Linked DNA regions of Homo sapiens: region 2 is linked to region 1. Evidence: fine-mapped expression QTL. Tissue or cell type: whole blood. Region 1 holds a variant in brackets; the other region holds the start of a gene. All regions are shown on one strand. Distances are between the middles of the regions.

Region 1 (8,000 bases):
ACACCTGAATGGACCTTTTTAAAGATGTCTGTTCCTAAACCGGGCGTGGTGGCTCACACCTGTAATCCCAGCACTTTGAGGGGCCAAGGCGGGCAGATCACAAGGTCAGGAGTTCGAGACCAGTCTGGCCAACATGGTGAAACCTCGTCTCTACTAAAAATACAAAAATTAGCCCAGCGTGGTGGTGCGCACTTGTAATCCCAGCTACTCAGGAAGTTGAAGCCGGAGAATTGCTTGAACCCGGGAGGCGGAGGTTGCAGTGAGCCGAGATCATGCCACTGCACTGCAACCTGGGCGACAGAGCGAGACTGTCTTAAAAAAAAAAAAAAAATCTGTCTCCTATTCAATTTCCAAAGAGAACCGGTACTGGTTAATCTCTGTTCCCTGATATCTTCATTCTCCCTAGTAATCATTTACTGTTCCCTGTCTCCTGCCTCCCCTCTGAAAAGAGGAAATGTGTGGCCGGGCGCAGTAGCTCACACTTGTAATCCCAGCACTTTGGGAGGCCGAGGCGGGTGGATCACCTGAGGTCAGGAGTTCGAGACCAGCTTGGCCAACATGGCAAAACCCCGTCTCTACTAAAAATACAAAAATTAGCTGGGCATGGTGGCAGGTGCCTATAATCCCAGCTACGTAGGGGGTGCTAAGGCAGGAGGATCGCTTGAACCATCGTGCCACTGCACTCCAGCCTGGGCAACAGAGCAAGACTCCATCTCAAAAAAAAAAAGGAAAAGAAAAGAGGAAATGTAAGTATCTGGGCCCCACCGGGATACTTGAGTAATCAGTCTGTGATTCTCCCACATGCATGTTAATAAATGTGTATGCCCTTTCTCCTATTAATCTGCCTTTTGTGAGCTGATTTTTCAGCCAACATTCAGAGGGCAAAGGGGACGTTTTCCCTTGCTCCCTACAGTAGCTTTGAAGAGGGAATTCTATTTAGCCAAATCACCAATGTTAAGAGGCTTCAATATTTTCCTTCTTTATTATTCATTCATCCACTACCTCAAAAATGATATGCAGCAGCAAAAAGCCACTTTAGGTTTTTGGGGTTTTTTTAATGATATACAGATTATTGAAGAACAACTAAAAAATAAAAATAAAAACAGGCCAGGTGAGGTGGCTCACGCCTGTAATCCCAGCACTTTGGGAGGTGGGAGGATCGCCTGAGCCTAGGAGTTCAAGACCAGTCTGGGCAACATGGCAAAACCCTATCTCTACAAAATACCAAAAACAAAAACCTCACTGCCCATTAAAAAAAAAATGACCAAAAAAGAAAGAAACTAATTAAAAATGGGCTGATAGGTATCAGAATGTATGTATCAGATATGTTTTCAGAAATGCTTCTGGAAAGTCAGTTGAGTTCCAAAACTCTGTGTCTAGTCGACCAGGGTCAAGGTCAGCAAGAAAGGAAAGGCTTGTTTCCTTCCTTTGCCTTGGAAATCACATCACCACTTAGGCATTGCTCCACCATGGTGAGCGCCAATTTATCCCTCCGTGGTTTGGGATTACCACTAATTCTGTCACTAATTACTACAGTTGAAGCAGTGATTAACATTTCAAAAAGGGAACAGCACTATGGATTTACTATTAAGAGACCCAGATTCTGATTACTGCAGGGATCTCCTGATTCTTGGATGATAAAGGAGCCAAGAGGCAGGGGGAGGTGAAGACAGAAGCCCGGCACAACACGAAGGGGCAGGAAGTGGACTGGGGGTTGGGTATCCAAGTCCTTAGCATCAACAGCAATGTCTTTGCGGGGCTGTAGGGACCATTGCAAGCGAAGTGTGGGCTCTGGGGCACATGAACTGAACCCACCCATAAATATTTGGAATGGGGGGGTGCCGTTTCTATGAATCTCTAAAAGGGGGTGAAAAATACATTTCACAAATGAGTATGAGTTCTAAGCCTTGTTTGGAGGAGTAGCCAATATGGCAAATGGCTGGATTTCTACTGCACTTGGATCACACCTTGAGACTCTCAATCCTGGAAACAGTTTGTGAAGGAGAGGGAGAGCACCCCTGCTGACATAGGTCCCTGGGACACAGCTGGCTTGAGAGCAGGGCCCAGTGGGTAGGAGGCAAAGTGTCTCCTCCCCTGTGTCTGCCCTGAGCCAGTCACACAGGGCCAGGTGCCTCGCAGGGATCAGGTAGCCTTCTGAGCTCTCCCAAGCAAAGCCAAAGCAGGTGCTCTCCTGGGTGCTGCCCATACCCCCTCCCCTCCCCGCTCCTTCCTCTTCTCTCAGCTGGAAGCAGTCAGAGCCATGCCTCTGCTACATAGCTCTCCTCATCCTGGAAAGGTTCCAGTGCTCCTGGCTGTAGGTGACATCCATGGCTGGGAAAAAGCAAGAGTGAACTATATATAAAGTTCTTTCTTCTCCAGCCAGAGACAAGCGAACACACCCAGGGTAGACCACAGTCTATTCACTCTGATGGCCAGAATCTCTTCAGTAGTTCTTAAAAAGCTAGAAGTAGGTGCTAGTAATCAACACCTAAACAAAAGGGTGGAGGTGGAGTAGGCTTACATCAGAGATATACATGCTAATATGTGAGCATGAAGTAGACCCCACCCGTGGCCACAGTGAACAGCACAAGGCCTCTTTATCAGCGTCCAAATCTCATTCAGGATGACTGCAGGCAGAGAGCAGAGGTCTTTTCCTGCTGCAACCAGCCTACTCCCACTTGCCCATCTTTCAAGAACATCAGTTGCAACAGCTGCAGTTTCCTGGCGTCCATTTTGCAGGCTGCATACAAGATGCCCCAAATCACTCCTTTAAATAAGAGCCTCGAGAGCAGGGAAGAAATCGCAGGGGTGTGTGAAAGCTGTACTCACTGGTCGTGTACTCACAACCCCAAGGGAAACCTGACTTCCTCCTGCTCTCCCTCCCTCTGCTGCCTACAGCAGGTGAGCCCCACCCTAGAGCACAGAACACAGCTAACAGGGGATTCCTGTGAGGGCGCCACGCTGGAGCAAGCACAGCATTCACCTCCACAAACTAGTAACTGCGGGTCTGCCGGGAAGAACAGCTTCCACTGAGCAGGCCAGACTGCGACTTCTCAGTCTCCGCTCAGCCAGGTGCAGGGGCTGATACCACTCCTCTGGGGAGGAGAAACAGACAATCCTCAGGGGGCCCTCCCCCAACGCCCCACTGCAGGGTATGAGCCACAGGATGCAGAGTGAAAGGATACAATTTTTCTTTCAATTCTACCTCCCCTCTGTATTTCTTTGTTTTGGGGGCTGCCTCAATTCTGCATCTGTGAAATCTGTCCAAAGGGGGTCTGGAATCTCTGCCTTTAAGTCTGAGACCCACCTGTCCATTAGGATTGCTATTATCTGGGATAAGAAGAGAGGGAAGCTTTGATTCCCTGATGGAGAGATTTCCCTAAAATGAACCCTTCATTTGTTCTGGAGTTCTTCATGTTCTGAAGACATAAGAGCAACCCACACAGTATCTGCGAGACCCATAAACACTACACTTTCTAAAGTATCACAAGCCACTAGACAGTAAAGTCAATGACAGCAGGTCAGCCTTGCCCAACCATGGTATCCCCAGTGACTGGCATAAGGTCTCAGTAGACACATATTGGATGGATGGATCAGCGGATGGATGGATGGATGGATGGATCAGCAGATGGATCAGCGGATGGATGGATGGATGGATGGGAGAGCAGATTGATGGAATGGTGAATGAATGAATGAGCAAATGTATGAACAAATGAAGTTAGAAGGAAGATTTCACAGAACATTTAGCCCTCAGGGTTCAATCTCTGGGTGACAGACTTACCAGAGCCATCAGGAATGGACCTTACGAATGTTGGCAACATCTTGACTGTGGCTGTTGGATTAAAATCCCGGGAGAGGCCATTCTTCATCTCCTTCCTGAAGCGAGTCATGATATCTATGAGAGTTTCATCGGAGAGCCGCATGGCATA[G/C]AGATACTTGTCAATCTGGAGGGGGATGAGAAGGAAGGAGAGTGAGGTCGAGGGGGAGGACAGGGCAAGGTGAGGCACCCACCCGCTGAGATAGCCAGCTCCCACAGGCACAGGAACACGCACGCTGGCACATCGCATGGCGGAAGGTCATTCAACTGCTGTCATCCATGTCACCCAGAACAGGCTTGCAAATGCTCTGAGCCCTAGTTCCTGGCCTGTAAAATGAACCCGATATCTCTAAGATCCTTTCCAACCCTCAAATATGACATGGAAGCTGCTCTTCAACCCCCAAGTACTTGATGGAGGTAGGTTTCCTCCAGTATCAGGAACACCTCAAGCCTCCTTCTCTCTCTGAGAATTGGCTGGCTCACTCTCACTGGGATGGGAATGACAGAGAGGCTACGAACAAGGGCTCTGGAGCCAGCCAACTGGGTTCAATCCTAGCCCCAGAGCTTAACAGCTGTGTGAATTTCAGTTTCCTCAACTGAAAAACTGAGATGATAGATAGGACCTAACATATAGGACAAGTTCAAATGAGACACAAGCACTTAGAACACAGTAACTGCTCAATAAACATCAGCTATTATTATTAACATGAGACAGTAGTACTGGCAGGTGTCCATGGGCAAGACTTCTAGAAAGACAGAAATGGCGGCCAAAGGGCTAGGACCCTTCTGAGAACACAGGGTGGCAGGCCCAGAGCACAGAAACCTTAAACCCAGCCTCAATGAATGGAGACAGCCCCTGGGCTCCCATACCCATGTGCCGGGCCTGTGTGCCAGGCCATGGGCCCTGCACCTCCGAGTCAAACTACTCCCACCCTTCACCAGGCCTGACCCAACCTGCTCCTCTTCCTGAGTTCCCCGTTCTCCTCAAGCTGCCCAGGCTCCTAACCTTAGGCACCCTGGGTTGTCACTGGCTATCACTAATTGTTTGTCCTTCATGGCATCTTCGCATTTATTCTCCCAAAAAAGGATTCACTGGGCACCAGCTAGGTGCCTAGAATTGAGCTAGACACCTGTCCTGATGGCACTATCCCTGTAGAGTCCACCGAGGAAGGTTCTTTTGTTTCACCATCCACTCTTTCTGCTGCTCTGTGTGCCTGGATTGCTGATGATCCACTGTAACAGTTTATCTTCAATCTCTTCCTTCCAACCCATCTTCTACACCACTGCAGCATCAGCCTCTTAAAGTGCAACCCTAATCAAGTCATGCCTCTGCCCAAAGCCTTGCAATGCCTCCCCACTGCCAAGGCACCTACCCTCTGCAGGTGTGGCTCTGTGCTCTCTGAACTCCGGCCAAACCACCTCTACCATTCCTAGTAGGTGCTCCAGGCTCTCCTCCTTCTGCTGTCACCTCTACCTGAAATGCCCTTCCTTTTCTTCCCAGCTCACCTAACCTTCAAGGTTCAAATCAACTGTCACTTCCTCCTGAAGATGTCCAAGTCCTTCAGGCTGGATATCACCACTCCTTCAGCACTGACCCCTAGGCAGGGTCTGGTCTGGATCCCAGCTTTCCATGCGTGTCACCCTGACCTCCCCAGTGCCTCACATGGAGCCTTGCACACAGAAGGCTCCCACTGGATAGAGAGACAGATTTACAGCCCCACAAGGCTGAAAAGACCTTAACACTGGTGTTTTTTCCTTTGTTTGTTTGTTTGTTTGTTTGTTTGTTTGTTTTTGGGGTTGGTTTTTTTTTCATAGTCTATCTCTGTCACCCAGGCTGGAATGCAGTGGCAGAATCTTGGCTCACTGCAACCTCCACCTCCCAGGTTCAAGCAATTCTCCTGCCTCAGCCTCCTGAGTGGCTGGGATTACAGGCGTGCGCCACCACGCCCTGCTAATTTTTGTATTTTTAGTAGAGACAGGGTTTCACCATGTTGGCCAGGCTGGTCTCAAACTCCTGACCTCAAGTGATCCACCCACCTAGGCCTCCCAAAATGTCTGCCAACACTCTCTGCGCCCAAGGATGATCCTTGCCCCCACTCCTAACCACTAGCCCTACCACCTTTTTCCCTTTACAATAAAGCAGCTCAAAGAAGGGCAATCAGGAACCACCAAGAGCCAGAATAGAAATTGCCAGAAGAGGCCAGGCATGGTGGCTGACACCTGTAATTCTAGAACTTTGCAAGGCCAAGGCAGCAGGATCATTTGAGCCCAGGAGTTCGAGATTAGCCTGGGCAACAACCCTGTCTCTACAAAAAATAAAAATTAGCCCAGCATGGTGATGCACACCTGTAGTCTCAGCTACTCGGGAGGCTGAGGCAAGAGGATCACTTGGGCCCAAGAGGTTGAGGCTGCATTGAGCCATGATTGAACCACTGTACTCCAGCCTAAGTGACAGAGTGAGACTGTCTCTAAAAAAAAAAAAAATTAACAATTGGCCAGGAGCAGTGGCCCACACCTGTAATCCCAACACTTTGGGAGGCTAAGGCAGGCAGATTGCTTGGGGCCAGGAGTTCGAGAGCAGCCTGGGAAACTTGGCAAAACCTCGTCTCTAAAAAAATACAAAAATTAGCCAGGCGTGGTGATACGCCCCTGTAGTCCCAGCTACTCGGGAGACTGAGGCGGGAGGATTGCCTGAGCTGGGGAAGCAGAGGTTGCAGGGTGCTATGATCCTGCCACTGTACCCCAGCCTGGGTGACAGACTTAGATCCAGTCTCCAAAAAAAAAAGAAAGAAAGAAATATGTATATATATTTTTTAAAGGAAATAAAATTGCCAAAAACATGGCCCTGGGAGGAGAGACAAGCCATGCCCTATTCTGGCTGGTGGCATTCATCAGCAGCCCTTGCCATCATAGTGCCCTGGGTCTGCAGGGAGAGACAGCCACGTTGCAAGCATGGGAGAGAAGGCTTCCTGGAGAGGCGAAGTTGGAGAGCATGCCCAGGCACAAGCAAGGGCATGTGTGAAGTCCGAAGGGGAGGGAGGGTGGTTTTTGTGATGAACAAGCAGACGGTGTGCCTGGAAAGACTGTCCAGAGCTCAACCACACAGGGCCTGATGAGCCACATAAACAAATACAAGCGGGATCCCACAGCACAGCGAGCCTTGGGACGGCTTTACTGATTACAACCATGATGAGAGTTGTGTGTCTGCTGCGTGGAGAATGGAGGAGCAAGCGCAAGATCATACAATAAAAGCTACATTGCTAGCTGGCACAGTGGCTCATGCCTGTAATCCTGGCACTTTGGGAGGCCGAGGCAGGAGGATTGCTTAGGCCCAAAAGTTCAAGACCAGCCTGAGCAACATAGTGATATCGCACCTCTAAAATATTTTTTAATTTTAATTTTAAGGCCGGGAGCAATGGCTCATGCCTGTAACCCCAGAACTTTGAGAGGCCGAGGCGAGTGGATTACCTGAGGTCAGGAGTTCAAGACCAGCCTGGCCAACATGGTAAAACCCGGTCTCTACTAAAAATACAAAAATTAGCTGGGCATGGTGGTGCATGCCTGTAATCCCAGCTACTCAGGAGACTGAGATATGAGAATCGCGTGAACCCAGGAGGTAGAGAAGATTGCAGTCAGCCAAGATCGCGCCATCGCACTCCAGCCTGGGCAATGCAGCAAGACTCCATCTCAAAAAATTTTTTTTAATTTTAATTTTAAAAAAGGTACATTGCTACTCCAGCATTTTGGACACGCCCCAACGACCACACTCCTCACACATCATGATTATCCTTTTACCAAGCTGTCCATCTCCTATGATACTGCGTGAGTTCCCCAGGGAAAGAAAACATATTGAATAGACCTTTGGAACTCACCCAGTTGCTTGACACAAAGGAGGAATTCAAACAATGCTGGATCCTGGAATAATACTATATAATTCTCTTGTGGCTTACAGTATATCAGTATATCAAGATCCAGTATGTCATTTAACCTTCAAAACTGTCTGGGAGATGTTCTTAATCCCCATTTTACAGACACAGAAACTGATGGTCCAAGAAGCTAAGTGATTAGTTCAAAGCACACAGCTGGGGGAGTGAGGTTTTATACCTGCAAGTCTAAGGCTCCTCCATACAATCATCCCTGCCCCTTAAGAAAGACTGGTCCCCTGCTCTGCAGAAGGCAGATC
Region 2 (8,269 bases), 24 kb after region 1:
CATGACATTCCCAAACTATCCAACCAGATAAAGTGATGGGGCTTCTCTTGGGAGAAACCCTAGGAGTATCTAAGGTAGGAAAGGCAGGGATTATAAAGTCAAGATTCACCAAGAAGCTCTCACTGAATATTTGTACAACATCAGAATTGAGAGGTTATGAGACACTTCTCATAATTTTCTTTCTTCTTTTTTTTTTTTTTTTTTTGAGACAGAGTCTCGCTCTATCATCCAGCCTGGAGTACGGTAACACAATCATAGCATCACAGCTCACTGTTTTGGGATCAATCTTTTGGGCTCAATGAGCCTCCTGAGTAGCTGTGACTACAGGTGTGTGCATGCCACCAAAGCAGGCTAAAAAAAATTTTTTTTTAAGATGAGGTTTAATTTTGTTGCCCAGGCTGACTTTTCATAATTTTTTCTTTTTTTTCTTTGCCACTGCAAGAACCCACAGATTTTTCATAATTTTCTTTTTTTTTTTTTTGAGACAGAGTTTCGCTCTGTTGCCCAGGCTGGAGTGCAGTGGCATGATCCTGGCTCATGCAACCTCCGCCTCCCCGGTTCAAGCAATTCTCCTGCCTCAGCCTCCCGAGTAGCTGGGACTTCAGGTGCATGCTACCACGTCCAGCTAATTTTTGTATTTTTAGTAGAGACGGGATTTCACCATATTGGTCAGGCTGGTCTTGAACTCCTGACTTCGTGATTCACCTGCCTCAGCCTCCCAAAGTGCTGGGATTACAGGCATGAGCCACTGTGCCCAGCCAGATTTTTCACAATTTTCTAACTATCACCTCTCTCACCCCTGAGCAATAATGAATGGGCATTTTTTTTTTTTTTTGAGACGGAGTTTCGCTCTCGTTGCCTAGGCTGGAGTGCAATGGCGTGATCTCGGCTCACCGCAACCTCTGCCTTCCAGGTTCAAGTGATTCTCCGGCCTCAGCCTCCCAAGTAGCTGGGATTACAGGCATGCGCCACCACACCCAGCTAATTTTGTATTTTTAGTAGAGACGGGGTTTCTCCATGTTGGTCAGGCTGGTCTCGAACTCCCGACCTCAGGTGATCCACCCGCCTCAGCCTCCCAAAGTGCTGAGATTACAGGTGTGAGCCACTACATCGGCCTTTTATTTATTTATTTATTTTTAATGCTTGCTTTTGCAGCTGGAACACATAGGCTCTAAGGAATGTACCTTGGGCAACCCTTTAATTGCTAAGCCTACTCTCCCCTGTCTTCCTGGGTCAAGTACTCAAGGACTCCTGAGTTCGGCCATTGGACAAATCACACTCTCTTCAACAGCACCCATTAACCAATTTATGCAGATGCCGTCTGGATAATGGGGTTCCAAACTGGGAAGTCAGACACCTGAACTGTTTCAACCCAGGATATATTTTTATGGAGTTGAATTATTGATGTGCCTCAAGGCAATGAGGAAAGAAATGACACCCTTTTCATGATCACCTACTAGTGGAAATCACTTAGCGTTATGGGGATCTCGCCCAGAGAAAATCCACTGGCATTTGCTCACCATTCTGACAAGCCTGGAGGAAAGGAAGTCTAATCTTTCTTTAGAAGCCAAGTTCTGACCTTCCTGGACCCATCTTCCCTTTCTAAACAAACAGAGCACTATGCAATCCTTCACCCTGCTCCAAGCTCCTAATGGCTAAACCGAGTGGAAGAAGCTGGCGAGATGAGATGCGTGTTTAAAGTTACTTAGAGGTCAAAGAACCCAGCCTCTAGCTGCAGAACTGGCAGATGTCTGGGATTCTGATGAATGGAATCCTTCACAAGCACACATATGCCTCCCTTTCCTCCTACAGGCACTAGAAGAGTGAAAGGAATATATGTGTTTTGTGCTTAGCTCAGCCTAATGCCAGTACACCCTCTTCAACAGCACCCATTAACCAATTTATGCAGATGCCGTCTGGATAATGGGGTTCCAAGCTGGGAAGTCAGACACCTGAACTGTTTCAACCCAGGATATATTTTTATGGAGTTGAATTATTGATGTGCCTCATAGGCAATGAAGAAAGAAATGACACCATTTTCATGATCACGTTTGGATTCTAAGCAATCCCAAAAACTTCCCCGGCATGGTCCCCAGCTTCCCTTCTCCTACCTCTGGCTCTGAGGGCAAGAAGATAGATGAGAGTTACTGAGGGATGCCAGGTCTGTCTCCAGAGCCCCGGAGGCTGCCTACAGCTGGAGGGCTGAATCATCATGGCTGCCCACGCTGGGGGGGAACCATCCTCAGCAGGTCCCTGCTGGGAGGCAGGCAGAGTCCAGCCCCACAGGAAGAACAGGGGGTCCCGCACCTTCACCTAGCCTTTCCTATGGTGAGTGGTACGTGGAAAGAGCTGGTCTCTAAGAAATCCTGGGCCCCAGAAGAGCAGATGTGGTCCCCAGCATCTGCACACTTGGGCAAAACTGAGTAGGTCACTGGAGCAAGTACCCACTATGTCACTGTCCTTAGAAGGCCCAGGCTGGAGTGCGGTGGCGCAATCATAGCCAGGACCACACCCACAGATGGCTGTGCCACACAGTCCACTATGCAAAATGAGTGGACCCCCTGGCAGGAATCCACGTACTCCCCTATAGAAAGCAGCATAGGAAGTCCGTGGTGAAATGCAAGCAAACATCTTGTTTTTAAGAATCTCCTTGACAAATAATATCTGGTGGAAACCTTGGCCTTAAGACCTTCCTCCAGCAAGGTTCTCGGGGAAGAGAAGGGAAGAACATCAGAATCCCAAACTCGGAGTGAGGAGGGATGGAAGGGTCAACTGAATCACACACTCAGGTACCTACGGGGGCCTAGGAGATAGACTGTGCATCCATAGATGTGAATTGAGCCACCCACAGGAGTGGAGAGCTCTGGGCCCACCCTAGACACTGTATGTCTGAGAAAACATGTCCCACTGAATGGAGTCCAAACCTCAGCCCAGCTCAGCTGCTGGAGGCCACCGGCAGCCAACAGCCAGCAGTCTGTTGTGGGTGGTGGTGGGTGTGGACACTGGAGGTTTACAAGGTCACCCAGGCACCCCCCAGCCCAGCAGCCCACTGTCTTGAGCTATAAAGGACACCACGTGCAGGAGGACAGTGAACTCTTGGCTTCAGGAGGCCTGTTCTGGGCACTTCTTGCCATGCCGGGAGAACTGTCTCCCTGGTCCAATGGGAAGAACATCAGTGATGCACAACACCACTAGAGAAAACTCATGAAATGCACACACCCGCACGCACAGCTCCCAGGTCAGTGGCCAGAGGGAAGCTCCAGGGTGCTCCATAGGAGCAAGTGTTTCGAGTGCCACGGTTTGACAACCCCAGAGTGCTTAAAGCCATAAAGAGCAATGGCAGATGGCATTCCCAAGCCTATCTCCTACCTACCTCACTCCCGGTCCCCACCCACCATGGGATCCAAGATCACGGCAGGGTCCCCAGCGGCTTTGTCTCTCAGTACCCACTCCCTCCTGGAAGCTGACCTCCAGGAGGACCCTGGTGAAGTTCCTGGGTGGAGGCACTGGGAGACCTGGATCCCCCTGACTGGCTCTGCCTCTAACTCACTGGGTGACCTTGATAAGGTCGCTGCCCTCAGTAGGCCTGTTTCCTATGGTGCCAGATGAGGGAGTCATCTTAGATGCACAGGAAGAGGATGGAACACCCTATGGCTTGCCGGGCAGAAAATCAAGGCCTGTCACTCCTGCCTTTCACCTGTAGAACTCCACCTGTCTGAACGCCAAAGTCAAGATGACTTTGCCAGTCCATCCCAGCTAACCCCAGCAATAACGTCACCACGTTCAGGGTGGGTGGGCCTGGAGCCTGTACCAGACCTGGCACTGATAAAACGGGCGTCTTTCCCTACAGCTTAGGCTGTTTCTTTAAAATATGGTAGCACAGCTGGCAGAAGAGACAAATACACCTTTAAGACCTGCCAGCGGACAGTATTTTACACTAAGATGTCAAAGGCAACAACACCTCAGGACAGGAGGATGCATGCGTCCAAGTGCTAGAACAAGCATGCCACAGGCGTCCACCCAACTCAAATGACCAGTCGCTTATTTGAGCTCCTGTGCTGGCTAGAAATTACAGCTTAAGAGGAATAAAAAATTCCATTCAGACGTGCCGCTCCAGACACGAGGCCTATGAGCAAAGTTTCCGGTGGCCTCGCCGCCCCTCCCCGTTCCGGGAAGCCGGGCGGGTCACCTCGTCCTCAGATTAACGAGCAGCTCAAACAACTGGGAGAGCCCGGCGACAGCTTCTCCGGGGCACCCGACACCCTCCGCCAGGAACCCCAAATATGGGAGGCCTGGCCTCCAGCCAGCACCCCCGCCTGCTGCTCGATCACCTCCCCAGCATCTCCATGATCACACCTCCTCCCACGGCGCTCGGACCCTCCCGAACAGGCCCTGCGGAAGGGCCCACCGGCCACCTCCCCGCACAGCCCGGGGGCCTATCTGACATCCAGGGCCCGTTTCAAGGACACTGCAGCAGGCAGCCCGGTCTCGGGGGTCTTCCGCCCGATTGCCCCCCTCCCAAAAACGCACACACACAGAGACACTGACAATGCCGGTAGAATCGAAGGCGAAGGCTTTCCTTGCGCCCTGCAGTCCAACTCGATGCTGGCCCGGAGAAGGCCGGGCGCCGGAGGATGGAGGCAGCGGAGGCGGCGAGCGGATGCCGGAACGCAAGGCTGCGGCCAGGACCAGCGGCGGCGCGGGCGGGGGCTCACCTTTTTGACCTGGTCATCCTTCAGCTCCGTGAAGTAATAGGCCAGGAGCTGCGCGGCGATCATGCTGGCGGTCGGGGTCGCGGGGCGGCAGGCGTGGGGACGGTCGGTCCTCCGCAGCCCTGGCGAGCCGTGGTCCTCCGGCGGCTGCTCGGCGGCTCCTCCTCCTCCTCCTCCCCCGGCTCCTCCCCCTCGGCCCGGGGCGCGGCGACAGCTCGCGCGCTCCCGGTCTCCGCGCTCCCGTCCCCTGGAGGGTGACAGCCGCCAGCCGACCCACCTCCTCCACGCCCATTGGTTGCGGCGCGCCTCTGCAACGCCCGGCGGTGGCGTCCCGGCCGGGGAGCGGGGACGCGGCGGCCGCTCCCTCCTGCGCCGGAAAGGGGGCGGGCGACGCAGCGAAATCCCCCCCGACCCCGCATCATCCTGCACGTCCCCCACGTAGGGAGCCGATGCGGGCCTTCACGCGTGGCGGCGCCGTGCCCGGGTGGGCCGTGCCAGGCGGGGAGGTGCGAGGCGCAGGCAGGAGGCACCGCCCGGCTCCGCCGGGACGAGAAGCCCCTAGGGCTAGTCTAGGGACTGGCAGCCCCGGGGGCACGAAGGCGGTCCCATTCCTCGGAAATGAGGGCTCGCCCCTAGGAGTCCGGTGGACGCCGAGGTGCCGGAGGGGACTTGCAGAAGTGGGCGTGGAAAGCGGGCGGAAGCGGGAGCCGGGGACGCTACGCAGTCCTCGCACCCGGGTCCCGCGCCTTCCTCACCCAGGCCGAACGCACCGGCCTACCTGGGTCTTCAGCGGCAGTGCATCACCTCTCCCCGGCGTGCCCCGCCTAATCTCCAGCTGGCAGATTTGTATTGCTGAACCCAAAGCGACACCCCAGAGCACCCGCCCCCGAGTCACCAGCTCCGGTGGCTCTCCCTCAGGGCGCACTCCCTCTGGGCGGGACTTGGGCCACAGGTCGTGGCCTGTCCCCATCCTCTGGGCCTCCTCTTGCTCTTGGGCATCCAGGCCCACTGGGACTTGGGGCACGGTTCAGCGCCCCTTCCCAGGTGCCGTGTTTTCTACTTTCCCAGAGGAAGTTACGTAGGATGGGAGGACTCCCTAGAGGTGCTACCAGGACAGCCACTTTAGGATTCTTAGATTAATTATTTCTGTGTTCCGGAAGCCTCCAGGAGCTTTAGTGCCTTACAAAATGACATGTAATGAGCTCAAATATACAAACAAGTTGTTGCTATTCTGGTTAGACAGGTAAGGAAATTGAAGCTCAGTGAGGCCTCAGTCTTGCTGGACTTTATACAGCCAGGAAGTTGTAGATCTAGGATCACAGCTTGGATCTGTGAGTCTTTGAAGCAGGTGCTCACCTCTAGGGTTTGCTGTGGTCCCAGTTGTATAGAGCCCCTCTGCCTAAATAGGTCACTTTCCTGCAACCAAGTCTGCACCATATGGTGCCCTGAGATCCAACCCCCAACCTCTACCCTAGCTCTTGACTTTAGGAGTCCCTAGCCCTTGACCAGGCCTAGCAAAGGTACAGTCAAATCAGAGGGAGGGATGACGTAGGTTCAGGGGCCTGACAGCCACCATCACCCACAGAAAAGGAGGAGCTTAGATGCAGTCCTGAGGCCCCAGCTTCCTGTCCAGGTCACAGTCCCCACCCCCTGCCTTAGGGCCTATGCAGAGGGGCATCTTGAATCACCTCTGAGACTGTGTCTTCATCCATAAGATGAAGACACTAATGCCCACCTCACCTCCCCTTGATTGTTGTGTAATACTGTACGCAAAATACGTGCACATAATACACACTTAAGGAATGGCAGGTATCATAGAACTGACTGAAAAGTTAATGCGGTTAAAGCTTCAGGGACTCTCACTTTCATTCCTACCCTTCTAGGCCCTGGGAGGGCCTAGCAGTGTGATATTTGTATATTTATATTTGAATTATTTTCCATAGAGAGTGCCAATTTATTTAATTTTCAAGCCCAACAAAACCTGGATTTGCCCTGGATCATAATTATAAACCAGGAAGAGAGAGATTTTCTGGTACACATCAAACATTTGGAACTACCTACATGGCCGTTAAGCAAAATGGAGTGAATGAGAACAAGATGGTTGTTCTCAACTGCCATTTCATTTGAGTTCTGCAGATCTGCCAAGCTCACAGGGCTGGAAACTCCTTGAGGATGGAGGACTATGTTTTGCTAATTGCTCTGTCTCCTACACAAGCGCAGGGCCTGGCACTTGGCAGGCTGAATAAGCCTAATGCATAATCAAAAACATGGCCCTTAACCCAGCCACCAGCCGGTGCCATCACCCATGCCCAACCCGTTGTTACAACTCCTATCTGAGCTGGAGCCAGGGAGAAGCTGACGCTTGGAAGAGCCAGGTTACCCTGAAATGTCCTGTTTGCAGGCAGGAAAGCTGCCTCTGCTTTGTCTTCCCTGGCCTTTGAGAGGGAAACTGCTTCTCAAGGTGACTCATTCCTCCCCACTCCATGAATGCAACCAGGCCCCAAGGCCTGTCAATATTTCCTGAGAAATGTCTCTAGGCCTGACCTATTGCCACCTCCCAACTCCCAGTCCATCTCCCTGTGCCAGAAATATTACAAGAGTCTTCTAACTGTCCTCCTCGGCTCCTGGCCTCATGCCATCCAAGTCATTCTGAGCACCAGGTCACATTAATCCTGCTAAAATGCAGCATAATCATGTCATGACCCTTCCCTAAATCCCTTCATGGCCCTCTCCTTCCTGAGAGAGCCAATTTAAACATCTCTGCCTGGTTTCCGAGGCCTTCTGTAATCGACTCCACTCTTTCCCACTTATCTCTTCCTCCACTCTGGCCGCAACAAGGCCACTTCCCACCATCCTCTGCCCCCACCATGTCCACTCCATTTGTTCGCCGCTCATATTCCCTTCCTTGCCCTGCCTTCTCCACTCACCTCTGCCTGACCAAGCATCCCCTCTCATCTAAGGCCCAGCTTGCCAACCTTCCCTGGACCACAGCTACTCACCCCAATCTCCCAGGCCTCAGCACCTCGACAGGGCAAACTCAGGCTGTGCTCACAGTCCATCTGGATATACACCCAGACTCCTCTTTACAGGGCAGGAACCTGGGATGCCACAGGTGGGCCATCTTGCCCAGTGTCAGGTTGTGGTAGAGTTTTGAGCCAGGACTCCAGCCTAGTCCTGATGCCCAGCCAGTGCTCTGTCCATCCCACCCCCAACCCCTCATGCAACCTGGGCCTCAGATAAGTAACACTGAGTCATGACTGCCTAACTGATATGGGTGACTGTCTTCTAGGGGGCTGGTCCTATCTGCCCCAATCAGACAGCTTCCTGAGGCCAGGGCCCATGCTGCACTGCTGTGTCCCCTCTCTGTTGTTCCAGTGCTGACTTCACTAATTTCCTTAATAATTTGCCTCTTTTTGCTCTTGCATAGCTCTTAGATCCCTGCTAAGGCTCCTTGACAGTTACTCCCTGGATCCTCAGGAAGACCCCAACCCACAGGGAGTCCTTAGTTCCCTCCCTCTCCAGATGGCCCTCCACTTCCCTTCAAGTCCCCTGAACTC

The links. PIP is the estimated chance that this variant, and not a neighbour inherited with it, causes the effect.
Region 2: it holds the start of HK1, and the variant in region 1 is fine-mapped to the expression of HK1 in whole blood (TOPMed, PIP above 0.99).

What each region holds. Positions count from the first base shown.
Region 1 is chr10:69,339,771-69,347,770 of GRCh38, reverse strand. It overlaps HK1 (hexokinase 1), which reads right to left. Exons shown (of 18, transcript NM_000188.3): 2 at 3,782-3,944. Among named protein-coding and RNA genes, the nearest start is that of HK1, 25 kb to the right of the region's middle. RefSeq lists a silencer at 2,767-2,896 and enhancers at 3,501-4,354, 7,943-8,000. The variant G/C (reference allele first, on the strand shown) is at 3,930.
Region 2 is chr10:69,315,457-69,323,725 of GRCh38, reverse strand. It overlaps HK1 (hexokinase 1), which reads right to left and starts at 4,879. Exons shown (of 18, transcript NM_000188.3): 1 at 4,716-4,879. The coding sequence starts at 4,778. RefSeq lists enhancers at 1,794-2,710, 4,296-4,345, 5,636-5,865 and a silencer at 4,646-5,325.